Regions from separate parts of the Homo sapiens genome. Here region 2 is linked to region 1. Evidence: fine-mapped expression QTL. A gene starts in region 1. The other region holds a variant in brackets. All regions are shown on one strand. Distances are between the middles of the regions.

Evidence for each region. PIP is the estimated chance that this variant, and not a neighbour inherited with it, causes the effect.
Region 2: its variant is fine-mapped to the expression of HSD17B11 in whole blood (TOPMed, PIP above 0.99).

Annotation. Positions count from the first base shown.
Region 1 is chr4:87,384,870-87,400,445 of GRCh38, reverse strand. HSD17B11 (hydroxysteroid 17-beta dehydrogenase 11) reads left to right here and starts at 9,258. Exons shown (of 7, transcript NM_016245.5): 1 at 9,258-9,585. The coding sequence starts at 9,376. It also overlaps the pseudogene RN7SL681P. RefSeq lists enhancers at 8,391-8,963, 8,977-9,046.
Region 2 is chr4:87,354,551-87,370,126 of GRCh38, reverse strand. It overlaps HSD17B11 (hydroxysteroid 17-beta dehydrogenase 11), which reads left to right. Exons shown (of 7, transcript NM_016245.5): 5 at 12,711-12,848. Among named protein-coding and RNA genes, the nearest start is that of HSD17B11, 29 kb to the left of the region's middle. The variant T/C (reference allele first, on the strand shown) is at 4,925.

The sequences.
Region 1 (15,576 bases):
GGCTCAGGGAGCTGCTAGGTCTGGGCTCTCTGAAGGGCCACAGTTCTTCTCTCCATCTCTCTTCCCTCCTTCTCATCACCTGCAACATAGTGAGCAAGGGATGTGTTTCAGCTCTGCCATTTGGCAGGTCTTGAGTTCTTGTCCCATGTCCAGGAAGAAGGGGGCATGTAGACAAGTGGAGGGTGAGCAAGGTGAAGAGGTGCTTTATTGAGTGACAGAACAGCTCAGAGGAGACCCACAGTGGGTAGCTCCTCTCCACAGGCAACAGGCAGGTTCATCCCAACGTCTGTTCAGCTCTTAGCAGAAAAGAAACCCATGGTGGGTAGCTCCTCTCAGCAGACAGGTTGTCCCAACATCTGCCCAAATCTGGCTGAGTCCAGGGTTTTTATGGGCTTCAGAGGGGAGGAGGTGTGTGCTGATTGGTCCATGGATGGCCATGGGTGGGTCCATATAAAGCACTATAAGTTCTCACTCTGGTCCACAGAACTGGCAACCTGGCCCCCAGGCCTCAGGCCATCCGTGGACTGAAGGTAGGGTTTCACCAGCAAACTGCCCCTTTCCAACCAGGAGCCTGTCTGCCTCCTGCCACCATTAACCTGCTGTCCACAATGCCCACAGTGCCCAGGCCGTTCATGCTGAGGGGTACCTACAGGCTAGCACCAAGCTGCCCTCAGCACCTACTCCGCCTCCCTCCCATGCTCATCAGCACCCAAAGTCTGGAGGGAGCCAAGGTGGCAGGGGGCTGGCCTGTCAGTGCTGCCCCGAGCATGTGCACATCTGGCCGGCTTGTGACAGCGCTGGGGCTGGGCCTCAGCTTTGCTCCAAAATCAGAGCAGGTGCCTGTAGCGGGGAGAGTCCAGGCTGCAGGAGCACGCACTTCTGAGTCTGCTGAAGCGCGGGGGCTTCCTGGGCCCCTGAGAGTGCAGAGATGCCCGGGTCCCCAGCTGCAGCTGGATAGCTGCAGTTACAGGGGCTCCTACCTGCTCCTGGCCCCCAAGAGCACAGGGATGCCCAGGTCCAGAGCCATGGGTGGGCAGCCACAGCTGCACTCCAGAGCTCAAGGCTCCAGCCCTGCCAACTCAGAAAGGGGGTGGGGCTTCTGCCTGTTTCAGCTCCTGCCAGCTCCATGAAGCACACAGCCCCAGCCACGCCTCCCTCGCTGCAGCCAGTGTCATGGCAGTGGCCACTCCAGACAGGCCCACACTGCCATTAATATCCAAATACATATTTAAACTAATTAGAATTAATTTTGTTTATTCATTTTAAGTAATAGTAAAGGAAAGCATGAAATTTTTTTAAAAAGCTTAATCAAAATGGCCATGTGTTAAATCTGCTAAATAGTCAGTCATTCTAAATCTATATTATTAAAACTCAGTTTTTCTCCAATGGTGTATGCTAATAAACATAATTTAGTAGTATATTATAAGTATTATTTAGGCTAATTTCAATGAAATAATTTAGTATTATAAAGCAGATTGCTAGCTGGGCGTGGTGGCTTATGTCTGTAATCCCAGCACTTTGGGGGGCCGAGGTGGGCAGATCACCTGAGGTCAGGAATTCGAGACCAGCCTGGCCAACATGGTAAAACCCCATAAATACAAAAATTAGCTGGGCACGGTGGCGCCCACCTGTACTCCCAGCTACTCCAGAGGCTGAGGCCAGAGAATCACTCAAACCTAGGAGGCGGAGGTTGCAGTGAGCCAAGATCGCACCACTGTACTCCAGCCTGGGCAACAGAGTGAGACTACATCTCAAAAAATAATAATAAAATAAGAAATAAAATAAATGAGATTGCTTACACAAAGGTATGTAACACTTTTTTTTTTCTTTTAGACAGAGTATCACTCTTTTCACCCAGGCTGGAGTGCTGTGTCTCAGTCTCAGCTCACTGCAACATCTACCTCCTGGGTTCAAGTGATTCTCCTGCCTCAGCCTCCCAAGTAGCTGGGATTATAGGCACCCGCCACCACTCCCAGCTAATTTTGTGTTTTTAGTAGAGATGGGGTTTCACCAGGTTGGCCAGGCTGGTCTCGAACTCCTGACCTCAGGTGATCTGACTGCCTTGGCCTCCTAAAGTGCTGGGATTACAGGCATGAGCCTCTGTGCCCAGCCAACACATTTTTTAAACATGTTGAGATGGATAATACTAAAATTGCGGTTCTTGATTGCAGTGATATGTGATAATGTGTAATTTATTTGATAATCTCATCATTAGAGCTGCGAGCATATTACCACTTGTAATAAATAAAAGAAAGTCATTTTTCTCGTTTTAATTTTTTCTTAAAGTGGTATCATAGTTATTAATTTTCTAGGAAGTTATCATTGAAACATATGACATGTAATTTGCAAAAGTTATATCCAAACCCATATTTCAAGAACTTTCTTGTCATATCTTAGATTCAAAATAAAGATCCATTGAAAAGACCTCTTCTCTGTGTGGCTCTTCCTGAATACTTGGACAGCTTCCACAGCTATGGACACTATAAAGCAAAAAGTGGGCAACAGCCAGGTCATTTTACATGTTGGATTGATGTGATTTATAGTGCGGAGAGACTCAGGTGGGAGCAGAGGAGTCCTAAAGAAAACTGCCCATTATCCTAATGATTTATTGGATATTTATCTATTGATCATCTCTGTGGTTTTCTATTTGTTGGTTGGTTGGCTAGTTTTATGTTTGTTTTTTGAGGTTTTTTTTTTCTGTTTTCTCCAGATTCTAAGGTCTACTGACAAAAGGAGTGTTTGGCTGAAAGAAGCCAACTAATATCCATTTAAGGTGGATCTTCTCTCTAGTCTTTACAAATCCAAGGACATCTTAGAGGCCAAAAAAAGGTGGTGGGGGAGGGACATTTCAAGAGTATAACCTCAAAGTCAGAGAGACCTAGATTCCCACATTATGAACCATAGAACATTCGACAAATTACAGGCATGCCTCATTTTACAGCACTTCATTTTATTGCGTTTCACAGATATTGTGCTTTTTACAAATTGAAGCTTTATGGTAACCCTTCATTGAGCAAGTCCATTGACACAATTTTCCCAAAAGCTCGCTTCATGTCTCTGTGTCATATTTTGGTAATTCTCACAATATTTCAAATCTTTTCATTATTATTACATCTGTTAAGATGATCTGTGATCAGTGATCTTTGATGTTACTATTGTAATTGTTTTGGGACACCAAAAACCACATATCTATATAAAACAGCAAACTGAATCAATAAGCATCATGTGTTCTGACTGCTCCACCAACAGGTCGTCTCCCTACAACCCTCTTACCTGCTCCCCATAATCAGGCCTCCTGTTTCCTGAAACCCAGCAATATTCAAGTTAGGCCAATTAATAACACTACAGTGGTCTCTGAGTGTTCAAGTGAAGAGTCAAATGTGTTTCACTTTAAATCAAAAGCTAGAAGTGATTAAACTTAAGGCATGCTGAAAGGCAAGATAGGCTGAAAGCTAGGCCTCTTGCATCTACAGTTAGCCAAGCTGTGAATGCAAAGGAAGCATTATTGAAATCAATTTAAAGTTCTATGCCAGTGAACCCACAAATGATAAGAAAGTGAAACAGCCTTATTGTTGATATAAAGAAAGTTTTAGTGGTCTGGATAAATCTAACCAGCCACAATATTCCCTTCAACCAAAGCCTAATCCAGTTCAAGACCCTAACTCTCTTTAATTCTATGAAGGCTGAGAGAGGTGAGGAAGCTCCAGAAGAAAAGTTCGAAGCTAGTGGAAGTTGGTTCCTGAGGTTTAAGGAAAGAAGCCATCTCCATCCCATAAACAAGTGCAAGGCAAATCGGTTTCTTGAGATGGAATCTACTTCTGGTAAAGATGCCGGGAAGATACTGAAATGAAAACAAAGCATTTAGAATATTCCATAAACTTAGTTGATAAAACAGCAGTAGAGTTTGAGAGGATTGACTCTAACTTTGAAAATACTGAGAGGTGACAGCATGCTGGCAGTCCTCAGAGCCCTCGCTTGCTCTCGGCACCTCCTCTGCCTGGGCTCCCACTTTGGCGGCATTTGAGGAGCCCTTCAGCCCCCCACTGCACTGTGGAAGCCCCTTTCTGGGCTGGCCAAGGCTGGAGCCCACTCCCTCAGCTTGCAGGGAGGTGTGGAGGGAGAGGCACGAGTGGGAACAGGGGCTGCGTGCGGCGCTTGCAGGCCAGCTGGAGTTCCGGGTGGGCGTGGGCTTGGTGGGCCCCACACTCGGAGCAGTCGGCCAGCCCTGCTGGCCCCAGGCAATGAGAGACTTAGCACCCGGGCCAGCAGCTGCGGAGGGTGTACTGGGTCCCCCAGCAGTGCCAGCCCACCGGCGCTGTGCTCGATTTCTCACCGAGCCTTAGCTGCCTTCCCACAGGGCAGGGCTCGGGACCTGCAGCCCTCCATGCCTGAGCCTCCCACCCACTCCGTGGGTTCCTGTGCGGCCCGAGCCTCCCCAAGGAGCACCAACCCCTGCTCCACGGCGCCCAGTCCCGTCGACCGCCCAAGGGCTGAGGAATGCAAGCGCACGGCACAGGACTGGCAGGCAGCTCCACCTGCAGCCCCTGTGCGGGATCCACTAGGTGAAGCCAGCTGGGCTCCTGAGTCTGGTGGGGACGTGGAGAGTCTTTATGTCTAGCTCAGGGATTGTAAATACACCAATCGGCACTCTGTATCTAGCTCAAGGTTTGTAAACACACCAATCAGCACCCTGTGTTTAGCTCAAGGTTTGTGAATGCACCAATCAACACTCTGTATCTAGCTGCTCTGGTGGGGCCTTGGAGAACCTGTGTGTCCAAACTCTGTATCTAACTAATCTGATGGGGACGTGGAGAACCTTTGTATCTAGCGCAGGGATTGTAAATGCACCAATCAGCACCCTGACAAAACAGGCCACTCGGCTCTACCAATCAGCAGGATGTGGGTGGGGCCAGATAAGAGAATAAAAGCAGGCTGCCCGAACCAGCATTGGCAACCCACTCGGGTCCCCTTCCATACTGTGGAAGCTTTGTTCTTTCGCTCTTTGGGTCCGCGGTGCTTTTATGAGCTGTAACACTCACCGCGAAGATCTGCAGCTTCACTCCTGAACCCAGCGAGACCGCGAGCCCACCGGGAGGAACAAAAAACTCCAGACGCGCTGCCTTAAGAGCTGTAACACTCACCGCGAAGGTCTGCAGCTTCACTCCTGAGCCAGCGAGACCACGAACCCACGAGAAGGAAAAAACTCCGAACACATCTGAACATCAAAAGGGACAGACTCCAGACGCGCCACCTTAAGAGCTGTAACACTCACCGCGAGGGTTCGCTGCTTCATTCTTGAAGTCAGTGAGACCAAGAACCCACCAATTCCGGACACAGTACTACTTTGAATTCATAGATTCATTATAGAAAAAAAAAAGTGTCATTGCACACAAGCTAATGTCTAAATTTCTCCAGCTCTAAAATTCAGACTTCGGAGTCAAATTGTGAAGTCTTCTATCTCAGGATGACAAGAAAACTATGGGAAATACCTCTGTTGGTAGGTCTGGCAATCATTTCTGTATATTTTTCCTCAGTATTTTTTATAGTGAAAGTGAGCATTCTTCACTGGCCTGTGTAATTGCTAAGTGTTACAGTGGTCTTTCATTCCTAATCTGCTGGGATACTACAGAGACAGCCTTGCAAATACAGGCGTCTTACTATAACTGATTAACATATAGTAATGGCTGTCATTCACTAAGTATGTTTGTATGCAAGATGTGCTTTTATATATATCTCATTTACTCTTGTGCTTTTTACTCTTATGAATGACTCTGTGCTTTGTATATATGTCATTTACTCTTCACGGCAACCAAGCTGCTATTACATCCATTTTACAGATGAGGTAACTGAGAACTCAGGAGAGGTTAAGTAATTAACCAAATATCACACGGCTCATTAAAAGCTTGGTAGGAATTCGAACGCATTCTTTTAGCAGCTGCAATCTATTCCCTGCTAATTAGATATTTACCTAATTGTATGAAAGGGAAGTGTTATTAATGTTGTGATTCAAAATCAGGAGTTTTGATCTTTTCGAATTTATCTAATGGTTCAGAACTGGATTCACTTTTCTTTTTTGCGTTAGGGAAGAAGGCAGCTAATTGCTCTGGCTGGGACTCCCAGTTTAAAAAAAAAAAAGCCGGTGACGACAGCCTAGGTTTAAATTCAACTCTACATTTATACTATGATCTCAAGTGGTTTGCTTAGTTTCTCTTAATTCTTTATTTCTTCATTCATATAATAGAGATTTCTATTGAACCTACTGCTTAAGGTTATTGAGAAGATAAAATGAAATGTGTTAGGTGAGGGCTGAGAGAGGTGAGGAAGCTCCAGAAGAAGCATATGCCTGGCCATAGTAAGTAAGTGTTCAAGACACTGATGAAAGACCCCTATTCTTCTGGTTCAAGTTAGGGTTTAAAAAAAAAAATTAAAGAAAAATACCCCCTTATCCTTATCTTTTTTTTTTTTTTTTAAATACTATTTCAACTTCTGGGAAGGCAGCATGTAATTAAGATGCCCCACATAGGCTGGGTGCAGTGGCTCGCACTTGTAATCCTAGCACTTTGGGAGGCCAAGGCCGGTGAATTGGTTGAGCCCAGGAGTTCAAGACCAGCCTCTACCAGGGTAGGGACACCCTGCCTCTATCAAAAATACAAAAATTAGCTAGTCTCATAATCCGGTCTCAAAATAAATAGATAAAAAATTTTTTAAAAAACAGATGTCCCAAGTACAAAATATTTTAAACCCTACCAATGAAAGATGTTTTTTAAAACCACAAATACATAAAATCACATAGTGGTCAGATAGAAGCTAATCTGTGTTCTAACTGTGAATGATTTTAATTGTAAACATCTAGTTTGCTGTTCACAAAATCATGTTACAACCATCATTCACAAGACCATTCACATCACTCACATTCTATTGGTGTTAATTATAATTTACATAAAGTTGAATAGTTGATAAAGCAATGTGCTTTCTATTAACTCGTTTGAACGTCACAAGAATCCTGTAGGGTAAGTATTATTTCAATTTTACAAATTTAGAAACATGTTTAGAGAGATGAAGTCACATACACATAAGGGATTCAGGTACGACTGCGTCCAAATGCTGTGTTCTTTCCCTTAACCAATGAAACCTTGATCAACTGTAGGTTAAAACTACCCAGTTTTTTTTAATTAATAGAATGGAATAAGAAATAGCATAGCCAGACCGTGTGCCATGGCTCACGCCTGTAATCCCAGCACTTGGGAAGACCAAGGTGGGTGGAACAGGAGATCGAGATTGAGACCATCCTAGCCAACATGGGGAAACCCTGTCTACTAAAAATACAAAAATTAGCTGGGTGTGGTGGTGCGTGCCTGTAGTCCCAGCTACTTGGGAGGCTGAGGCAGGAGAATCGCTTGAACCTGGGAGGTGGAGGTTGAGGTTGCTGTGAGCCAAGATTTCGCCACTGCACTCCAGCCTGGAGACAGAGGGAGACTCCTTTAAAAAAAAAAAAAATAGCATAGCTAGAGCCTCAATATATGAAACTCAACATAGTTGAAACACTTCTTATAGTAGATCACCATGTCAGATGTAATTTATTCCTGTAGGTGTTGGACCAAAAAATTGACAAACACTGAACATATGTGTAGCCCCAGTTACACTTTTACTCACTGTGTAGATTTTAAAGTTGATCTAACAGATTTATTCATTTACAGTATAGGTATAAATATATCCTGACTCTACTTTTCTCTATTTCCTAGGAGGCTTTTGAAAATCAAATGAAATAATATATGTGGAAGAACACTTTGTAAACTTTCTATACAAGTGTTTTGTAAATTTGGATTTGGAGGCTATCCAAAAAAAAGTTGTAGATATTCTGAATTCAAAGAATTCTATAATGGGGTTCACTTTTGTGAGGCTGCCACTATCCCTTCATCCCCTATAACAACGTATGGCTGCTTAAGTAAGAGGGACAATCGAGTTTGAACTATTTGTGAACTTTGATTTTTTTGTGTGATCTTTCTGGCTCTTAAATATGAAAGTTGACTATTGTCACACAACAAAGTCCCTTCCCAAGCACTGGAGTGTCTTGCGCAAAACCCAAATCCAATGTCTGTCAAAAATGAGTTGGAAAAAAATGCATGCAATACCATTATTAAGCTCTTACTGGACACAAGCCCTAGTTAGGTCTTTTCTTCCAGTAACCAATCTCTAGAATTTTTTCAAGTCACTAGTTAGCATATACTGAATACCCATTTATATAGGCTACAAAACCAAATGTTACATAGGTAATCTTTAGGCTAAATGATTTGCTATTTATTCACTTGAATAAAGATAAAATTCCTAAAGTACAACATATATTTTTTATTTTCAAACTCTAATAGGTCAAGTGAAAAATGATTATTCAAATATACTCTTCTTTCTTGTGGAAACAATCCCTTTAATACGATAACAATTTTTTCTGGCGCTTGATTGAAGCTGTCCTTGAACAGACAAAATTTCCCCTGTCTTCCAGAAATCGTGCTTAGTTCAAACTAAAATGTGATGTAGCGCAATTTCTCAGCTGGAAGCAGAACGATTGGTCTTTTCAGGATCCTTTAAGATAGGAATCTACATTTGCATCCTCTATCTAGTTTTTGTTTTTTAGGACAAAGTCTGGCCTTTTCGTCCAGGCTGGAGTGCAGTGGCGCGATCTTCACTCACTGTAGCCTCCACCTCCTGGACTCAAGCAATTCCCGTGCCTCAGTCTCTCGAGTAGCTGGAACTACAGGCACACGCCACTACGCCTGGCTAATTAAAAAAAAAAAAAAAGAGACCGGGGGTCTCCCTATGTTGTTCAGGCTGATCTCGAACTCCTGGGGTCAAGCGATCCTCCCGCCAGGGCTTCTCAAAGTGCCAGGATCACAGGCGAGAGCCGCCGCGCCCAGCGGCACCCCCTATCTAGTGATAAGCAACCTTCAACTATGAAAGAAGCATCTGGCCTGTGGACACTGTCGGTTATCCTTGGAACTTATCCAATTTAGGAAAACAAGTGAGCAACTAACCCTCCAAGGCCGGCTCACGACACCGGGAGAAAGTGGTGTAAAAGACAATCGCGGCCACACACCGCGTGGGGGCTGCGCAAAGCAGAACTAGGAAGCTTTGCTCCGGTCTGGACTTCGTCCCTCCCAGATCTCTGAGCTAGCAAGCACTGCAGCCCGAGCCAATTGCGAAAGACCAACAAAGCCCAGCCCAGCGGAAGGAACGGTTTCGGAGTTGTTTTTCTTTGATACGGGAGTTCCTCCTTGCTCTCGCCCCTACTCTTTCTGGTGTTAGATCGAGCTACCCTCTAAAAGCAGTTTAGAGTGGTAAAAAAAAAAAAAAACACACCAAACGCTCGCAGCCACAAAAGGGATGAAATTTCTTCTGGACATCCTCCTGCTTCTCCCGTTACTGATCGTCTGCTCCCTAGAGTCCTTCGTGAAGCTTTTTATTCCTAAGAGGAGAAAATCAGTCACCGGCGAAATCGTGCTGATTACAGGAGCTGGGCATGGAATTGGGAGACTGACTGCCTATGAATTTGCTAAACTTAAAAGCAAGCTGGTTCTCTGGGATATAAATAAGGTAACAGTGTTTACTATGTTTTACTTTCTGGTACCTTTAATTTGTGGATGTGTCTGCATTTTGCTGGCAACCACCCTTTACCTCATCTCTGCAAAGCAGGGAGGAAAAAAAAATTAGTATTGCCATTTTGCAGATGGGAGGGCATGAATTAATATGTTGTATGATCACATGATAAACAGACCTAGAGGTTATAATAGTCCCAGTTACTGCCCCATTTGTAAATTGATCCCCATTTTTGCCCTAAGGATAACTCATAATTTTTTCCTGAACCTGATTTCATTGATCCCTCTATTTTAAAAATAGGGAAAAAACAATCGTTTTAGCTATATATTAAAAGAGTAAGAAGCTTGTACCTATTAAGAGAAAGTCCTACTTACTGTTAATGAGAAAAGTGGTTTGAAAGATTATACTCGCCGTTGGCTCACGCCTGTAATCCCAGCACTTTGGGAGTCCAAGGCAGGCGGATCGCGAGGTCAGGAGATCGAGACCATCCTAACACACTGAAACCCCGTCTCTACTAAAAATACCAAAAAAAAATTAGCCGGGCGTGGTGGCGGGCGTCTGTAGTCCCAGCTATTGGGGAGGCTGAGGCAGGAGAATGGCGGGAACCCCGCGGGGCGGAGGTTGCAGTGAGCCAAGATGGCGCCACTGCACTTCAGCCTGGGCGACAGAGCTAGACTCCGTCTCAAAAAACAAACAAAAAGATTATACTCAACAGAAACCAATGCTACATTGCCATAGTTATTGCCAAGAGTAATTTTAAAAAGCATCTTTTCCGGGAGGCTGAGGTGGGGGGTTGCTTGAGCCTGGGAGGTGGAGACTGCAGTGAGCTGTAAACGCCCCACTGCACTCCAGCCTGGGTGACAGAGTGAGACCCTGTCTCAAATTTTTTTAAAAAACATTTTTTACCACGTTTGACCTGTGATACTGAAGGAGTGGCGGGAAAGCATCTTTTAGTAAAAACAATAAAAGGGAAAAAAACTTTCAGTGTAATTTTTTACCTAGGACAAGTGTAGGTGTGGCTTAGGGAGGAGAAGAGGACCTAGAATCCAACCTTTTATTTGACCTTTGGTAGATGAACAAAGGGGTTTCTAGAAGATACCTGATGGCCTGAAACATTATCCATTACACACTAGTTGACATGCAATGCTGTAAACAATAATTCAAAGGATGTGAAGTTAAATGAGGGTTAACCCAGTGAGTGGCTGATGAAGACAGCAATCAACAAATAATGACTGTCTGCTGCTTAGACATTAGGGATAGGGTGACAAACAGAAAATAAGGTTCCATGACCTCAGTCTAGTAGGGAAAATGGACATTAAGTAATTACAAGTGCAGGCTGGATGCGGTGGCTCACACTTGTAATCCCAGCACTTTTGGAGGCCGAGGCGGGCAGATGACCTGAGGTCAGGAGTTCAAGACCAGCCTGGCTAACATGGTGAAACCCCATTTCTACCAAAAATACAAAAAATTAGTTGAGCGTGGTGGCGTGTACTTGTAATCCCAGCTACTCATGAGGCTGAGGCAGGAGAACTGCTTGAACCTGGGAGGCAGAGGTTGCAGTGAGCCGAGATCATGCCATTGCATTCCAGCTTGGGCAACAAGAGCAAAACTCTGTCTTAAAAATAAATAAATTAATTAAATTAAATTAATAAATAAAAAAGTAATTACAAGAGCAATGAAAAATACAACCCAGGTCCAGCCTGGACCAGCATGGTCAAGGTCTGGCATGGTGATATAGTCAGACACATCTGAGCTTTCGTTTTCTGATTGGGTAACTTACTCAACGTTTCCACAGCTTTAGTTCCTTTTCTGCAAAATGGATAAAATAACAATACATACCTCAAAAAGCTGTCAGTATGATATGAGATAATGCATACAAAGCATTTAGCACAGTGTGGTATAAGGTAAACACACTGCAGTGTTCTTATTATTCCTTGACAAAGTGTGGTTTAAGCTAAAATTTAAATGTATGTAAGAGTTAGTTAGGTTAATGACTTCCAATGTCCAGTGCTGGTTTGTACAAAATTTTCTCTGATCTTCAGTGACATGCATTTATCCAACAAATATTTATTGAGCACCTATTATCTGTTAGGCACTGTTCTAATGCAGAACTGAGGATATAGCACTGAGGAAGACATGAGCCTCATGAGCTAGGGGCAGTATGCCACACTGTATAATAAAATGTATAATTGTTAGATGGTGTTAAGCATAAAGAAAAAAATAAAAGGTGAAAGTAGATAAAAGACTCTATATGGTGGGGAGGGTAGGAGGGGAGTGTTGACTTTACAGTGGTGGCCAGGAAGGCCCCACTGAGATGGAGATAATTGAATCAATATCAGAAGAAGCTGAGAGCACAGTGAGTCCTGCAGGGAGGGATCAGCAAATGCAAAGCCTGGCATAGACTGAGGGAAGGGAGAGAAGCACAAGAAAGGTCTAGATCTACTCTGTGCAACACAGTGGTAGGTAGTAGCCCCTAGCCTCTTGTGGCTCTTGAGCCTTTCAAAATGTGGCCAGTCTGATTTGAGATGCACTGTGAGTGGAAATACATGCTGGATTTTGCAGACTTAGTATGAAGAAAAGAATGTAGAATTTTGTGTTAATAATTTTTATATAGTATACATGTTGAAATGATAATTACTTAGATATGTTGGGTTAAATAAAATATGCCACTAGATTGTTTTTTTTTTTTTTGGTGTGACTACTAGAAAGATTAAAATTATATACATGGCTTGCGTTATATTTCTATGAGACAGTACCGGTGTAGAGATTTAAAGGGCTGGAGCTACAGATGATAAAATTTCCTGTATTTTGGCTTTTTACTCTGGGGAGTCAATGAAGGGTTTTGAGGGTAATTCCTATTGAAGAGGATCCTCCAGCTGCTGGGCTTAGGAGAGATGTAAGAGGAGAAAAGATGGAAGGAACAAGTAAAGTAAGAGACTACTGTGATAATCCAGGCATGAGATGAAATGATGGGGACTATTGAACCGGGTTGGCAGTAGCAGAGATTCGGAGTAATGGTCAGAAAAATTGAGGACAATGTAGTGAGTTTTTATTAGGTTAAATTAGTTTAATTTAAATAATCTATATTTTATTTTGAGATTATATCCTTCCTACTTTTTGTGGGTAAAAAATATATTTGTTAATGAAATTACATGATAACATATGAGGGTCATTTTGTTAGTTTTGAGTGTCCTTATTTGGCCAAAAGTTTGGCAATCCTAGTTCGGTATACACATCCCACTCTATTTTTCTTGCCGTTTTATAGATTTGAAATTATAGAAGGCTGAGAACCACTAAACCTGATTGGGAAAGGACAGGGTGGGGATTTGGAGCAGTCCAGGTAGCAGAAACTGGAGATGTGAAGCTCTTGGGCTGGTGAATACCTGGAGAATGAGGAAGAAAGTGGAGTGGTGTTTGATTGTTATGAGATCTAGCTGGCAGGGCAGGGAGGGGCCAAACGGAGGGCCCTTTCACCTAGAGTACAAAGACAATCTCTTAGATTCATCCATGTAATGAGGACAGCAGTGTCCACATGTACCATATGTTAATTTAGGGAAGAATTAATGGTGGTGTCAGCTTTGTTGTTCCACTAAGCCTGATAATGGGAATTATTCATTCTGCTTTGTGATAATCTATCACTTCTTGACTATTCTCATTCCCATGCTTGGTTAGAATAGTTTGTAGCCAGGCATGGTGGCATGCTTCAGTAGCCCCAGCTACTCAGGAGGCTGAAGCAGCAAGATTGCTTGAGGCCGGGAGTTCTGGACTGTGGTGCGCTCTGCATGTCTGCATAAGTTCAGAATCAATATGGTACCTTCTGGCGGTGGGCATGAAGGAGACCAAGTTGTCTAAGGAGGGGTGAACCAGCCAGGTTGGAAACGGAACAGGTCAGAGCTCTGGTGCTGTTCAGTAGTGGGATCATGCCTGTGAATAGCCACTGCACTCAACCTGCGCAACAGGGAGACCCTTTTTCCTAAAATACTAGTTTGGAAAGAAAAATTTACAGTAAGTGGTGAGCATATAATATATGCTCAAAGACTATTTGTTGAATGAAAAACTGAATTAATGAATAACTGAAAGAATAATGGGCATAATTTAAAAAGTTTTTCAATTTTTAGTAATCAAGGTAATGGGTGTAAAGGTCTTAGTTGTACCAATAGACAAACATATTTGAAAAAAGTTACCAAGGGAAATCTTGAAGAGTTATGAGCAATTGTACTGTGCTGCAAAACATTTTAAAGGAAGAATTCATTTTTTTTTTGAAGATCTGCTTATTTTTTATTTCTTACCAACTATCTACAGGGCACTGTCCGGAATTTTTTCTGGAGGAATTTAGAACTTAAATTTGTTGCACCGGCCGGGTGCAGTGGCTCACCCCTGTAATCCCAGCACTTTGGGAGGCCGAGATGGGAGGATCACTTGAGGCCAGGGGTTCAAGGCCAGCCTGGGCAACATGGTGAAACCCCGTTTCTCCTAAAAATATAAAAATTAGACGGGTGTGGTGGCGCATGCCTGTAATCCCAGCTACTAGGGAGGCTGAGGCAGGAGAATCACTTGAACCGGGAAGGCAGAGGCTACAGTGAGCTAAGATTGCACCATTGCACTCCAGGCTGGGTGACAGAGCGAGACTCCATCTCAGAAAAAAAAAAAAAAGTTTCACAATTCAGAAGGTGTGGAAAGCAGACCAACCTAAATGAGGAAGACCAAGGAAACAGGGCAAAAGTGAGACAGCGGATGTGAAAGAAGGGTATCTTTGCATCCATATAGTGGAGTGGTGGTTAGTTGCTTGGTGGTTACAGAAAGCCAACCAGTAATAAGCAAATCTCTGAAAACAGAATAAATGGGACATAAATTTTTATTGTAAAATTTGTTCATGTAAGGAAATATATTTGTTCAAAAAAGAGAAGACCCAATCAATACAATATACTTTTTTTTTTTTTTTTGAGATAGAGTCTCGCACTGTTGCCCGGACTGGTGTGCGGTGGCAAAATCTTGGCTTGCTGCAACCTCTGCCTCCCGGATTCAAGTGATTCTCCTGCCTCAGCCTCCCAAGTAGCTAGGATTACAGGTGCCCACCACCACACCCAGCTAATTTTTTATATTTTTAGTAGAGGCAGGGTTTCACTATATTGGCCAGGCTATTCCCAGAATCCTGACCTTGTGATCTGCCCACCTCAGCCTCCCAAAGTGCTGGGATTACAGGTGTAAGCCACCGCACCTGGCCAATACAATATACTTTTAAAAAACTTTTTAAAATATGGTAAAATATATGACATAACACACCATTTTAACCATTTCTGAGTGTACAGTTTAGTGGCATTAAGTACATTTACCTTATTATGCAGTGATCTCTTCTATTTCTCTCCAGAAATTTTTCATCTTCCCAAGATGAAAATCTGTACCCATTAAAACAATATATCTCCCCAGCCCTCTCTCTCCCCAGGTCCTGGCAACAACCATTCTATTTTCTGTCTCTATGAATATGATACTCTGGGTACTGCATATAAGTACATTCATATGGTATTTGTTTTTTGTGTCTGGCTTATTTCATTTGGCATAATGAAGGTTGTACGTGTAGCATGTGTCAGAAATTCATTTCTTTTTAAGGCTGAATAATATTCTATCCTATGTGTATACAACATTAATATACTTGTAAAAGGAAATGCCAAAAGCTGCTGGTTAAGTATAGGAGAGCAAAATAAAGTTTACCTGAGATGTTGATGTCCCTTGAGGAATAAGAGTTCCTCATGAGAGTATACTACAGTTTGTGAGGGAGATTTCAGTAAAAGAAAAATATTGTGGGAACCTGCCCCCAATATTTCAATGTAGCTTCTTTCTATTTTCCATAAGTGTCAGCCGGCTGAGAAATAAAGAGAGACAGTATAAAGAGAAATTTTACAACTGGGCCGCTGGGGGTGACATCACGTATCATGATGCCCCTGAGCCTCAAAACCAGCAAGTTTTTATTAAGAGTTTCAAAAGGGGTGG
Region 2 (15,576 bases), 30 kb after region 1:
CCTCATCTATCATTGTCCTGAGTTACTACAGCCACAGAAAATAATTTATTCTAGCTCTAGTAGCCTATCTTAGGAAAAAAATTTTAATTTCTTTTCAGAGTTTTAGTTCAACAGTTTTAATGATTAATATGAAGAATGCAAGATAAAAGAACTGGATTTATGGTGGAAGGTGAAGCTTTTGATTCTATTCTAAAATGTTTTTTGCTGCTTGCTAAGTAATTTGTTCACAAGTATTTTGATTTTTAAAAGAAAACAATTAGCTAGCTAATATATTCTGTCAACCCAAATAGCCAATTTATAAGCATGAAAAGTTGCCAGTATGGGAACGCTCAGTAAAACTGAGTTCTGAACATTAGCTTGTAACAAAATGTTATTTAAAAGAAAAATCTGGGGCCAGGCATGGTGGCTGACACCTGTAATCCCCCAGGCTTTGGGAGGCCAAGGCAGGAGGATCACTTGAGCTCAGGAGTTCAAGAATAGCTTGGGTAACATAGCAAGATCTCATCTCTACAAAAAATATTTTAAATTAGCTAAGTGTGGTGGTGCGTGCTTGTAGTCCCAGCTACGCAGGAGGCTGAGGTGGGAGGATTGCTTGAGCCCAGGAATTGAAGGCAGCAGTGAGCCATGATTTCACCACTGCACTCCAGCCTGGGCAACAAAGACAGACCTCAACACAAAAAGAAAAAAAAAAAAAGAATTTGGAATAAGAAGTACTAATTCAGACTATTTTTTTCAGCCCTCCAAGACATCTGAATAATTTAGACTATTTCTAATAAGAAGGAATTTGATGTAATGTTACAAAGTGCAGGGGGCAAAAATCTACTCACTTTTAGCTTTCATATATATATATGCCTTTCTATATATAGGTTCACCATAAAGTTGAAAAATATGTTATTCCTTTTACACACTCAAGATCATTAACTCTGACTTTCAATATATTCTTGCATTTTTGGTCACTTAAGTAAAATCAGAAAATAAGGTTTAGTAAAAGAAAAAACTAAATTTATGGATAGCTTCACCATGCAGAAATGTTAATGGAAAGGAGTCCCGATCCAGACCTCAAGAGAGGGTTCTTGGATCTCGTGCAAGAAAGAATTCAGGGTGAGTCCACAGTGCAAAGTGAAAGCAAGTTTATTAAGAAAGTAAAGGAATAAAAGAATGGCTACTCCATAGACAGAGCAGCCCTAAGGGCTGCTGGTTGCCCATTTTTATGGTTATTTCTTGATGATCTGCTAAACAAGCAGTTTGTTATTCATGCCTCCCCTTTTTAGACCATGTAGGGTAACTTCCTGCCATTGCCATGGCATTTGTAAACTGTCATGCGCTGGTGGGAGTGTAGCAGTGAGGACGACCAGAGGTCACTCTCGTGGCCATTTTGGTTTTAATGGGTTTTGGCCATCTCCTTTACTGTAACCTGTTTTATCATCAGCGAGGTCTTTATGACCTGTATTTTGTGCTGACCTCCTATCTCATCCTGTGACTTAGAATGCGTTAACAGTCTGGGAATGCAGTCCGGTAGGTTTCAGCCTCATTTTACCCAGCTCCTATTCAAGATGGAGTTGTTCTGTTTCACATGCCTCTTGACATTTCCCCCTTCCCTTTTATAAGAGAACTCTTAATCCTAAGAGTTGCAGACGGATGAAAATCCATCTTTTGTAACTTCTTCAGGCTGAATGGGGCCATGATATTCCTGCCTAACTGTTAGGGTCTCTTGTGTTCAGGGTAGAGAGGAGCTTAGTCAGAAAGCATCAGTGTGGCGAGGGCCATTCATGACTCTTGAGTTTTTTGTGTGTGTGTTTTTTGTTTTTTTGAGATGGAGTCTCGCTCTGTCACCCAGGCTGGAGTGCAGTGGTGCGATCTCAGCTCGCTGCAAACTCTGCCTCCCGGGTTCATGCCATTCTCCTGCCTCAGCCTCCTGAGTAGCTGGGACTACAGGTGCCCGCCACCACACCCGGCTAATTTTTTGTATTTTTAGTAGAGACGGGATTTCACCATGTTAGCCAGGATGGTCTTGATCTCCTGACCTTGTGATCCACCCGCCTCGGCCCCCCAAAGTGCTGGGATTACAGGCATGAGCCACCGTGCCTAGCCGACTCTTGAGTTTTGACAAGAGGTGATATCTGGGAGATTAATAAGTATTTAGTTTAAGAAAACATTTAGTAAGCCTGTCCTGTGTTCCCACACAAAGGGTATAACAGCAATATATTCCATAAGAGTAAAGCAAAGTAAGTAAAGTTATTCCAAGTAAACTAAATTAGAAGGCTTTCCATGAACTGGGCAACTGTTGAGACCAAGCTGATATGGGGTTGCTAGCTGATTGCAATGTGCCTAGAATTTTACATTACCCATCCCTCTTGTTTCTTCTGAGCAGCAGTTAGAGATCCCTGGTTGGTTTACAGGAATAAACAGGGTTAGCCTAAATTGCAGAAACAAACTTAAAAACAACTGAGACTAGAATTTAATAACAAGTATACTATAGTTCTTGAAATATAATATTCTCTCTCCAGTTTCCCATTTTTATTAAAGACACATTATGGTAAGACTGATTTGCTTTATTATACTTGGTCTGATTATTTGTATAAAGTGCAGCGAGAATAATTATTTTTCACACAGGCTTTTTAATTGGCTTTGATGGAACTCTGTTTTATAAGGAATCTCAGGTAAGACTTTTTTAAAGCTAAGCCCTGCCATGGGTTTGTACCCTTAAATACCTATGAGTTGGGTAAAACACTTTTCTTTTGAGGTCCCAAGTTAACTTGGGCCTCCTGGACCTGTAAGAAAGTGACATTCTTTACTTACCATAGGTCAGAAACCCTGTACAGGGACTGTGTAGGCAAAGTATGAGGCCAGTTTCCCATAGGGCTTTTATTGGCTTTACAAGTCAAGTTTGATTCTTTAAAGGAAAGCACACCATTCCAGTCAAAGCCTTGGTAAAATAACCAATTTCTCCAATAGTGTCCCATTACAAAAGAAAACAGATTTTTGTTGCACTTATACAAACAACTATATTGCCATAAGTTAAGAATACTTACAATTGGTTTCCATTCCGGAGAAATCAGGTAGAGAGAAACAAATATGTTTCAAATTTTGTTCATAGGAGTATATTTTACTTAATTGCTGCAAGCTGTAAATAGCTTAAAAGAAGTTTCCTTTGAAAAATAAAAGATCAGCAATATTTTAAGCAAAGTTAAAAAAAATTACTTCAGTTTTCTATTGGTTCAGTTAATTCAGTTAACTCCTGTTCTACTTGTTATTCATGAACATTCCAGCTTTTTATGAGAGTTTCGAAAGTTGTTTTCTTTATTTTAATGTTACAATTTCTAAAGTTATTAGCAACCTGCATTTAAGAACATCTGCTAGAATTCTATAGTTGATTATAAACCACCTTTTAAAGAAGATTAAAACAAGACAACAACTGTCTGTGGATGATAAAAACTTTAGGACAGCCACTATTAAAGCCACAATTGATAAGGAAATTTGGTTACTTTTGTGGCATACAAAATTTTACATAACAATTATAATTATTAGTAACATACACTAAGTCATATTAGAAATAAAGGAGTTTCTTATAACTTTGGAACATATACCAATAACATATTTATACAAATATAGTCCAAAGAAAGCAAAACACTGTTTCACATTTGAGAATGCTTCCTGGATGATTTTTATACCAAATAAGCGAAATTTCACCTTTACATTAATGTATTATTAATGTTAAACCCAATTTTTAATAAAACCTTAGAGACATATTTACCCAATTTTAATGTTTAATCCTAAGGTAAGATTTTATAAACCTTTATAACCCTTTACATTTTTTTGTGAAAGCGCAGATAAGTCCTCTAAGAGAAACCTGTTGTGCTTTTATTCCAATGTTTAATTTATGGAAAAACTGAATAATACCCCTTTAACTTTAGCTAATATGTTCATACACAGAATCTCTTACAATTAATTTTTATAAACCTTCCACAAAGGCCAGGTGCAGTGGCTCACACCTGTATATCCCAACACTTTGGGAGGCCAAGATGGGTGGATCACCTGAGGTCGGAAGTTCAAGACCAGCCTGATCAACATGGAGAAACCCTGTCTCTACTAAAAATACAAAATTAGCCAGGCATGGTGGCACATGCCTGTAATCCCAGCTACCTGGGAGGCTGAGACAGAAGAATTGCTTGAACCCGGGAAGCAGAGGTTGCGGTGAGTCAAGATCACGCCATTGCACTCCAGCCTGGGCAACAAGAACAAAACTCCATCTAAAAAAAACCTTCCACAACTTCTTTAAATCTTTTTTTTTTTTTCACTTAACACAATCCTTTAACACTTTAATCTAGGCAGAAAATAATCCGCATTCCCATGCTTCTTCTTACAATTTTTTTTTTAACCAAAAACACATTTCACCTTTTTTATACACCTTGCATGTAAAACTGTTTCTTCAGTAGTCTTAATTACACATTACAATGCTAACTTCTAGCAACTTTTATTTTTGATGAAAACGTTGGTTAAGTAAGGGATTTTAATTATGTACTAGGTGTGGAGACTAGTCTAGGACACACCAGGCAGAAGTGCAGATAAGGGCTGACTCTCCAGCATAGCCAGGGGCATGAGGCCTTATCTAGAATCTGATGGCTTTAAAGTAGGTAAATAGAACAGTTTTCAAAAGTTAAAGAAACAGTTTGTCCTTAAAGCATTTAGCAAATCTGATATCTGACCTTAATTTAGACCAAATGTCTACATTTTTAAGACATTTTATTTTACCAATAAACTTTAAAACTGTCTTTATTTTCAAAAGATTACTAAAGTCACACGAACAAAAAGGCATTAGTTTCTATTTTTCTGAAAAAATATTTACGCACTTACTTTTCTAAGTCAATTGATTAGAGCTTTGTAATATATAAACATACACTATAAATAGAAGATTCAGCACTTA[T/C]ACAGTTTTTCGTTTGCCAGTTTCTTTTTTTTTGAGACAAAGTTTCGCTCTTGTCACCCAGGCTGGAGTGCAGTGGCATGATCTTGGCTCACTGCAACCTCTGCCTCCCAGGTTCAAGTGATTCTCATGCCTCAGCCTCCCGCGTAGCTGGGATTACAGGCGCCCACCACCACACCCAGCTAATTTTTGTATTTTTACTAGAGACGGGTTTTCCCCATGTTGGCCAGGCTGGTCTTGAACTCCTGACCTCAAGTGATCCGCCCACCTCAGCCTCCCAAAGTGCTGGGATTACAGGCATGAGCCACCTCGCCCCACCATTTGCCAGTTTCTTAATTGGATGACAGGTTTCAGAGTGGAGCCCTTGGAGGAACAGAGCTGGGACAGCATGCATTTCTAGGGCTAAATAAGTAGCAAATAAGCAGCTGAAGGCAGACAGATCTCCAAAATTAAAGGTGGTATTTTATACTGGATCCTGGATCCCCAAAAGGAGGGAAATACTACGGGAGAAGACAATGCAGTGCTTTTACCGACTGTGCATTTCATTGCAAGGCAACCTAAAGCCAATCAGCCCATTTTGTAATCAGCCCATCCTCATGAGAGTCTCATCTCCCAGTGAGGGGTGAGGATGTTGCCTTATCTTCCAGGTGGCCTAGAGCATGCTTCTCTGATCCAAGTGTGCAGAGTCAAGTATCCCTCCATAACTACTATTAGCCACCCCTTAAAGTACATTTCCTACCTAGTTGTTACACACCAAAGCTCTCTCATAATGCAAAGTAATTGCTGATAACCCCCCTCCCCCAAACTCAAAACCGTCAGATAACACAATGCAAAACAGAACAGAGCCTTTGATTTTGAGAGGAATCTATCTGCTTTTAATTCTTGGGGTCTCATGAGGAAAACAGAGGGGTTTTTTTTCTTTTTTTTTTTTTTTTCCCAAAACTGGATCTGTGGTGCTGCCTTTGTTTTTCCCAAGTAGTCCCAAGCTACCAGAAGTTATCTACGGGCCTTTCATGTGAGCATTAATAGTAACAAGACAAAACAAAACAAAACAAAACAAAAAAACAAAAATAATTCACTTGACTGAGAAGAAAAAACCTTTTTCCAGCAAAACAAGCTTCAAGAAGAGAAAAACATAAAGGCCTTTTAAATATATTTATAGCTTATTCCACTTTTAATTAAGCTGACTTTTCACCATAGTGCTCTTTAAAGAAGAAATCCTTTCAGAGCTCTTATTACCCGACTTTAGCCATGCCAAGCGGCCAATATTTCCAGCTTCTGAACTTTACCAAAGGTAAACTCCTAGGTGCTTAGAAGAAGGAAAATTGAAGACAGTCCATGGAGGAGAAGAGAATAGACACATATATTAAATCAGTAATGACTTATTTCCTGGGTGGGGAATTGAACCTAGACTGCCACTGTGAAAGTGCAAAACCTTAGCTACTGAGCTACAGGTCTGGGCAGTGTCTATTTCTTTTCTCAGAAGTAGTCTAGATTAGTTAATTTTGAGCTTGCAAAGGCTTTTAACTATTTAATATGATTTTCAGAGCTGGCTATGACATGAACTTTAAAATTCTTGTTCCCTGGAAGACAGAGCCCAAGAGAAGGTACTGCCATGCGGTTAAAAGGTCAAGCTCCCAAGCACATAAAACAAGGTGGAGACTTCATCGGGTTTTTTGTTTGTTTCAGGGACCTGCAACCAAGTTTGTTACTGACCAGCTTGCTGGGTAGTCTTGAAAAGCGGGCTTACAGGTGTTCTAAGCCCATGTTTTATCCTGAAGTACCCCTCTACACGGAAAAACGAATTCATAGCACAAAATACACCAGCTTAAGACTAGCCTTAGAATTCTTTTTCGCATTAATTAAGTCTTTACAGAGGTGATAAACACTGATTTTTTTTCCATTCATTCAACTGTTTGCACAGAGAGAGAGAAGCTAAAAATCTGACTGGTAACAAATTCTTAGCCTTTTGCTGGCATGCCAGGCTTCTGGGTTCCTTTTCCCTGAGCAGCCCTAGTGATCGGGCTTGTGGCACCATCTCCCCGGGGGCCAAGCTGCATCATAAAGGAAAAAAATTTTTTTTTTCATTTTGACCAGAGCAAAATATGCATGATAAAACATAGACATTAGCTACTCTGCTTAGCACCCAATATCAAACTGGCAAGGCTTAAATTTACCCCCAGTTGGGCCCCATCATCTTTAATCCAACCTCTGACTTGGAATTTCAACATGTGGTCTCTGGGCAAGAAGGTCGCCCTGAGAAATAGAAAAGATAAGAAAGGGAAAGGAAAAGTAGAGACGGAAAGTATTGCCTGTGGCAGGGTGGGGAAGGCAAAATGATCAGGGAGGCCAGAGAAAGACCCACCTATTGCAGCAACACTGAAAACTTCAGGCTGCTGCTGTCGGTTGAGCAGGGATCTTTTTCAGCAATCCTGTCAGCTCTCAAGTTTCCCCTTTTAGGCAGGAAAAAGCTCCCCATGTCCCACGATCCTGTGCATGCCTAACCCTGTCACCCATAGCCATCAGCAAAGAGTACAAAGGCAGATTAATCCAAAGAGAACAGCAGTTAACATCCCATAGTGCCAAACCTGTTCTTAGCTGAAAGGGACTTTACTGAGAGGGTCCTCTAACCCCCTAAATCTTATTCATTTTATTTATTATTTTATTATATTTTATTTTTGAGATGGAGTCTCGCTCTGTTGGCCAGGCTGGAGTGCAGCAGCACAATCTCGGCTCACTGCAACCTCGGCCTCCCGGGTTCAAGCAATTCTCCTGCCTCAGTGTCCTGAGTAGCTGGGATTACAGGCATGCATCACCACGTCTGGCTAATTTTTGTATTTTTAGTAGAGACCGGGTTTCACCGTGTTGGCCAAGCTGGTCTCGAACTCCTGACCTCAAGTGATCCACCCGCCTTGGCCTCCCACAGTGCTGGGGATTACAGGCGTGAGCCACTGCACCTGGCCTAACCTCCTAAATCTTAGAAGGGACTCTAATCCTCCTAAGTCAGGCCTCTAACTTGACGTCAGTCAAGTGTCCTTGCCTTTTATTAAGAAGGACCTGTAACCCACTCTGTCTTAGGAGAGACTCTAACTCCCCTAAGTTGGGCCTCTAACCCAATCCCATTCTTTACCCAGGTGTAGGCACCCCACTTACTCAAAGTCAGCCCACTGTTGTGCCCTGATGATTTTCCTTTGGGTCAGGGGTCTCTTCAGTATTGTAACTCTATGGTCTGCCAGAAATATGTTACAGGACCCCAACACTTACCCAAAGGTAGCCATAGGGTCAGGGTTTCTGCACTTTAGTCCCTTCGTGGTTGCCAGAAAGATGTTACCAGAAAGGGGTCCCGATCCAGACCCCAAGAGAGGGTTCTTGGATCTCATGAAAGAAAGAATTCAGGGTGAGTCCACAGTGCAAAGTGAAAGAAAGTTTATTTATTTTTGAGACAGAGTCTCGCTCTGTTGCCCATGATGGAGTGCAGCGGCGCGATCTCAGCTCACTGCAAGCTCCGCCTCCCGGGTTCACGCCATTCTCCTGCCTCAGCCTCCCTAGTAGCTGGGACTACAGGTGCCCGCCACCATGCCCAGCTAATTTTTTGTATTTTTAGTAGAGACGGGGTTTCACTGTGTTAGCCAGGATGGTCTCGATCTCCTGACCTCGTGATCCGCCCGCCTTGGCCTCCCAGAGTGCCAGGATTACAGGCATGAGCCACCATGCCCGGCCGAAAGCAAGTTTATTAAGAAAGTAGAGGAATAAAAGAATGGCTACTCCATAGACAGAGCAGCCCCAAGGGGTGCTGGTTGCCCATTTTTATGATTATTTTTTGATAATATGCTAAACAAGGGGTGGATTATTCATGCTTCCTCTTTTTAGACCATGTAGGGTAACTTCCTGACGTTGCCAGGGCATTTGTGAACAGTTATGGCGCTGGTGGGAGTGTAGCAGTGAGGACGACCAGAGGTCACTTTTGTGGCCATTTTGGTTTTGGTGGGTTTGGTTTTGGTGGCTCCTTTATTGCAAACTGTTTTATTAGCAAGGTCTTTATGACCTATATTTATTTTGTACTGACCTCCTATGTCATCTTATGACTTAGAATGCCTTAACCATCTGGGAATACAGCCCGGTAGGTTTCAGCCTTATTTTACCCAGCTCCTATTTAAGATGGAGTTGCTGTGGTTTACATGCCTCTGACAAAATAATCATGATATGCATGTTATAATTTTTAAGGATATTTTAAATGCAAACATATAGTTATGCATTGAAAAAATATATAATTTTGGCTCTTAATTTAAAATAATATATGTTAATAAATATTATGTGCAACATCGTTTTCTATTTCTGCGTGGGATACCACTGCACATACGTGCCACTAGTTATTCAATTTACTCATTATCATTGGTATTTTGTCACTCTTTCAGTTGCAAGGAACAAAAAACTTAAACTGCCCCAGGCCCAAAGAGGAATTTTTTGGCTCTGTGATTAAAGTCTCAAGCAGGCTGTCTTCCTCTGATGGCCAGATATCTACCAGAAGTTCCAGGGTTAAACCCTTTAAATTCCAAGTCCAGCAGGAAGGGAAAAAAAACATCACTTCAACAGTGGCTTCAAACGTTCTTGTTCTAGAGGTCAGTGACTAGACTAGCCTGGAGCCAATCACTGTATGCATTTGGTGACAGCGGTATTACCAGAACAAGGGGACACAAATGCTGATGGGAAAAAACAACAGCTGTCCACTACAGACATTTCACATTATTCCCAACTATTTGCTTTAATGAACTGCACTCCAGGGACTATCCTTGAACATTAATCTTTGGAGACATCATTGATTATTACCTTGGGATAAACACCGGATCTGAGAGCGTGGCATACTTTTAATGAATTTGATACCTTTTGCCAAACTGCCTTCCAGAAAAGGCTACCAGTTAACCTGTGCTTTGGAAAATAGAAAGCTGTGGAAAGAAAGTGTTTTTTGTCACTTTTTTGAAAGTTTGACATATATTGAATGAAGCCTTAAAAAGAAAAGATTGCTAGATTCAATTATATGAGGTGAAATATCTGTACATTGAAAAAAACTCAGATGAAAATTTCTGTCCTTATAATTACTGCTAGGCAAGAATTCCGTCTTGTTTTACTTTGCTTTTATATGAATTATTCCTAAAGTAAATCATTTTTATATGCCTACATCTACTGGCATTTTTATATTATGATTTTTCCATGAATGCCCTTTAGCCATTTATCTATTAGAGTATTGTCTTATTCCTTTATAAAAGTTGCCATATATTAACCTTATCCTTGTCTTATATGTTGCAAATGCTTTACCAGTTTGTCACTTGCCTCTTAATTTGCTTGGAGTTAATAAAGTTTAGAATATATCATATATAAACCTGGTTTACTACCCACACGTAAAACCTGATTCTGCCACTTTGTTTTGTATCTTCAGGCAAGTTTGATAACCCATCTTTACCTCAGTTTCCTCTTTGGTAAATGAGGATCTTAATATATTTTATAGGGGTATTATGAAGATTAAACAAAATAATTATTTAGAATAGGCCAGGTACTGTGGCTCACACTTATAATCCCAGCGCCGTGAGAGACTGAGGCAAAAGTATGACTTAACCCCAGGAGTTTGAAACCAGCCTATGCAACGTAGCGAGACCCACATCTCTACAATAAAGTAAAATAATTATTCAAGTGTTGTGGCACATGCCTGTAGTCCCAGCTACTTGGGAGGCTGAGGTGATAGGATTGCTTGAGCACAGAAGTTCCTAGGTTGAAGTGAGCTATGATTGCATCACTGCACTCCAGCCTAAGTGACAGATAAAGACTCCCCAAAAAACTCCAAAATGCATCAGAATAACTGAGGGCAATGTCTAGCACTTAGTAATCTATTTTAGATCTGATTTTTATTTATGTTGTTTTTCAGTATACAGAAGCTTTTAATCTCATATAATTTAATCTAACAATCTTTCTTTTAAGCCTTCTGTATTAGTCCCCTCTCACCCTGCTATAAATAACTGCCCAAGACTGGCCAATTTATAAAGGAAAGAGGTTCAATTGACTCACAGTTCTGCGTGGCTGGGGAGGCCTCAGGAAACTTACAATTACAGAGGAAGGGGAAGCAGGCATGTCTTAAATGGCAGCAGGAGAGAGACAGCGAGAGAGAGTAAGAGCAAGAGACGAACTGCCAAACACCTAAAAAACCATCAGATCTTGTGAGAACTCCCCCACTATCACGAGAACAGCATGGGGAAAACTGCCCCCACGATCCAGTCACCTCCCACCAGTGCCCTCCCTCAACATGTGGGGATTACAATTCGGATTACAATTGTTGATGAGATTTGGGTGGGGACACAGCCAAACCATATCAGCTTCAATAAGTGCCTAAACTTTTTTTAAAAAGGTAAGAAATTTTTTTTAAAATTTTTTAAAAAATTTCCACAGCTTTCTGTCTTCCAAAGCATAGATTAACTGGCCAGAATGTATAGCTACTTTGTGTAATTGCTAATTCATACAGATTTAACAGAATAAAAGATTATCTGATAATTATTGCCACTGAATTGCACACTTAAAAATGGTTAAAATGACATGTTTTACATGATATATATTATACCACAACTTTTAAGTTAATTATATATCAAAAACCATTTAATTGTGTACATTAAGTGAATGCTTTGTGTGACATATGAATTTATATCTCAATAAAGCCCTTTTTAAATTAAAAAAACCTGAGAAAGTAATGTCCATTTAGAATAAGTAATTTCACTACTACTTCCAAATGAAAGAGCTGTTAAAATAAACGCTTTGCATTGTGATTCATTCATTTGACAAATATTCATTGAGCACCTAAGAGCCAAGCACTGTGCTGGGCCCTGGAGATTCACTGGTGACCAAAACAGTCATGGAGCTTATAGGAAAGGTGTGGGAAACAGATGTTTTAAAAAATTTAATCTCAGCTGGGCGTGGTGGCTCACGCCTGTAATGCCAGCACTTTGGGAGGCCGAGGTGGGCAGATCACGAGGTCAGGAAATCGAGACCATCCTGGCTAACATGGTGAAAACCCGTCTCTACTAAAAATACAAAAAATTAGCCGAGCATGGTGGCGGGCGCCTGTAGTCCCAGCTACTGCGGAGGCTGAGGCAGGAGAATGGCGGGAACCCGGGAGGCGGAGCTTGCAGTGAGCCGAGATCGCACCACCGCACTCCAGCCTGGGTGACAGAGCAAGACTCTGTCTCAAAAAAAAAAAAAAAAAAAAAAAAAAAAAATTTCTCTAATGAATGTTCAGTTACAAATCTGAGATAGATACTATCATAGAAAACTGAAAATTACTATATAATGAGAAAATAATTTAGACTGGGGGTTAGGAAAGGCCTCTTTGAGGAAGTGAAGCTGTGACTTAAAGGAAGAATAGGATTTATCCAGGAAAAGTTTTCAGCAAATTCTATGGACATCTTAAAGTAAATAAGGAACAGCTTATAGTGACACTGAATTTTGTGGAACAACAACAAAAACAAATACTCTACTAATTTTCTTTAAAAGGCTTTTTAAGGAAATGTTCTTATTCCGTAAGTGATGCTAAGATGCAGTAAATCTTCTATGTCAGGGCTTCTTGGACCTTAATGTGCCTACAGATTTACCTGAGAATCTTGTAAGATGTGGGCTCTGATGCAGTAGCTCTGGGCTGGGGCCTGAGACTCAGGGAATGCCCACATTGCTCTGCAGAGGACCATGCTGAACTGAGGAAAACAGGCAGACATTTCAGAATTCTTGAATTATTTTGTAAACTCTCTATTTTCAGTTCAAGCAAGTTTGCTGCTGTTGGATTTCATAAAACTTTGACAGATGAACTGGCTGCCTTACAAATAACTGGAGTCAAAACAACATGTCTGTGTCCTAATTTCGTAAACACTGGCTTCATCAAAAATCCAAGTACAAGGTAAGTTGAGAAATTGAGACAAAAGGATTGGTGGTTGCTATGAATACCAGCCATTCTGTGGGTTTTCCTAAATGTTTTAATCCTGAAAACACCTGATAGTTAAAGCTCTTAGTTCATTTTGATTTCAGTTTCTGCAGATTGTGGGAAAACAGGTGGAAAGCCAAAAAGAGAGAAAGCAAGGGAGCGTGACTAAAAAAGTAAATATGAATGACATTGGTAAACTTGCTAACTCTTCCTTTTTTCTTCTCCTGAGTAATGATTCACAGGCTTAAATATGCATACATGTCACCAGGTGTGCTTGGGAACTATGTTGGGGCTTCACCCTCAGATATGTTGACTTACTGGGTTTGGTTGGGGTAGGGTAGTGGCAGGGAAGGGAGCCTGGAACTCTACATTTAAAAAAGGTGATTATCATAGGTGATTCTGATAGAGATAACCCAAGACCACATGTGAAAAACACTTCCCTTGGAGGTAATCTAGAGATTAGCCTCCGAAAGGAGTACCAGATCATACTCTTTACTTGGTTAAAAAATAAAATTATAAAGGATTAATTTGAAGATAATTTTTAATGTTTTCTCTCTTTAGAAATAGCTTTAATGTCTTTGTAAACATGATGCATACTTATTTGTTTAAATTCCAATGTTAATGAAAAATACAAATCGAAAAGTTTCTTTTTTAATTTCCTTAAAACCCTCTATTGAGTGGAAACCACTCTCAAAATTTTGATAAACATCCTTCTAGACTTCTCTGAATTTTCTATAACTGGCGTATGTTACACATGGGGTCCTGGAAGCAGCAAGTATACTGCATACTTCCCTCAGCATTATGTTACAGACATCTAATAAAGTACAGAGCATTATAATAAATTGTATTGATTATTGGGAGCAATAGCATCTCCTAGTGATGATTTTAGGGTTGTTTTTAGTGTTCTGGATTTTTAACAGCAAATCAGCAATAAGCATCCTCGGGCACACATATTTTCACTTTTGGATAATTATCTCCCTCAGGTAGATTCATAAAGGGGGATTACTGGGCCAAAGGGTATATAACTTGTAAAAATTCCTACATATTGCCAAACTCCTCTCCAGAAATGCTCCACTGATTTGCACTCCTACCCACAGTGCAGGGAGAGCAACTTACTCTCTACTTCTTCATCAGTCTGCCTTCTGTGACTCTTTTAATCACCGCCAATCCAGTACGCGAAGAATCATCTTTGTTTTTACCCTGATGACTAGCTACATTCATGTTCGCATATGATTTTTGGACATTGCACTTCCTTTTATGAATTGCCTATTTTCATGGCATCAGCTCACTTTTTGCTATTGAGCTCTAGAGTTGTTTTTGTTTGTTTCTTTGTTTGTTTTTTGTTTTTTTTGAGACAGGGTTTCACTCTGTTGCCCAGGCTGGAGTGCAGTGGCGCAATCTCGGCTCACTGCAACCTCCACCTCCCAGGTTCAAGCGACTCTTGTGCCTCAGCCTCCCGAGTATCTGAGATTACAGGCACGCACGACCACGCCCAACTAATTTCCGTATTTTTAATAGAGATGGGGTTTCGCCACGTTGGCCAGGCTGTTCTCAAACTCCAGGCCTCAAGTGATCCGCCCACCTTGGCCTCCCAAAGTGCTGGGATTACAGGCATGAGCCACCATGCCCAGCTGAGCTCTAGAGATTTTTAATTAATACATAAGAAACAATTCTTCATACATTTGAGAAACCCCTTTATATATCACATCTGTTGCATATGTTTTTTTTTTCCCCAGTTGTTTTTTGTTTGCTTTTAAGCCTATTTTCATTTAGTTTTACATTAAAATTTTCTTAGGGATTTTTTTCTCATGGACTTTAGGTTCTGTGAGGTGTTTAGAAAGGTCTTTCTCATTCCAAGTTTTTGAAAATATTTACCCATATTTTTTCTAGCATATATTTTATGGTTGCATTTTTCATATTTAAATCATTGCCCCACCCAAATTTATTTTGATTTAAGAAGTAAGGTCACAGTATAGTTTTTTCCAAATAGTTAATGAGTTTTCTGCACTATTTATTAAATAATACATCATTTTCCTCACTGATATTAAATTCATATTATAAGTTCACATGCTTACTTGGATAGACTTTTGGATTCTCAATTTTATTGTAATGATGAGATTCAATTTTGCTTGGTTTTGTTTTGTTTTTCAGACAGGGTCTCATTTAGGCTGAAGTGCAGTGGTGTGATCATGGCTCACTGTAACCTTGAACTGGGCTCAAGCAACCCTCCACCTCAGCCTCCTGAGTAGGACTACAGTGTGTGTGCCATCATGCCCAGCTAATTTTTTTTTTTTTTTTTTTTTTTGAGAGCCAGGATTTTGCTGTTTGCCCAGGCTGGTCTCAAATTGGCCTTGAGCAATTCTCCCACCTCCACCTCACCTCCCAAAGTGCCAAGATTATAAGCATGAGTCATTGCATCCAGCCAAGATTCAATTTTTAAGTTTTATTCTGCCCCCTCAAACTTCCCCATATTTCCCCCAATTCAGCTGCCTTTGTTGAAAATGTATTTAAAATTAATGAAAAATATTCAGTGTGGCCACTTGAAGGGTTAATTTGAAGGTAAAATTGAAGATTCTAATTTTTTTCCTTTTTTTATTTTTTTTATTTTTTTTGAGACAAGGATTCGCTCTGTCACCCAGGCTGGATGCAGTGGCACAATCACAGCTCGCTGCAGCCTTGACCTCCTGGGCTCAACCTATTCTCC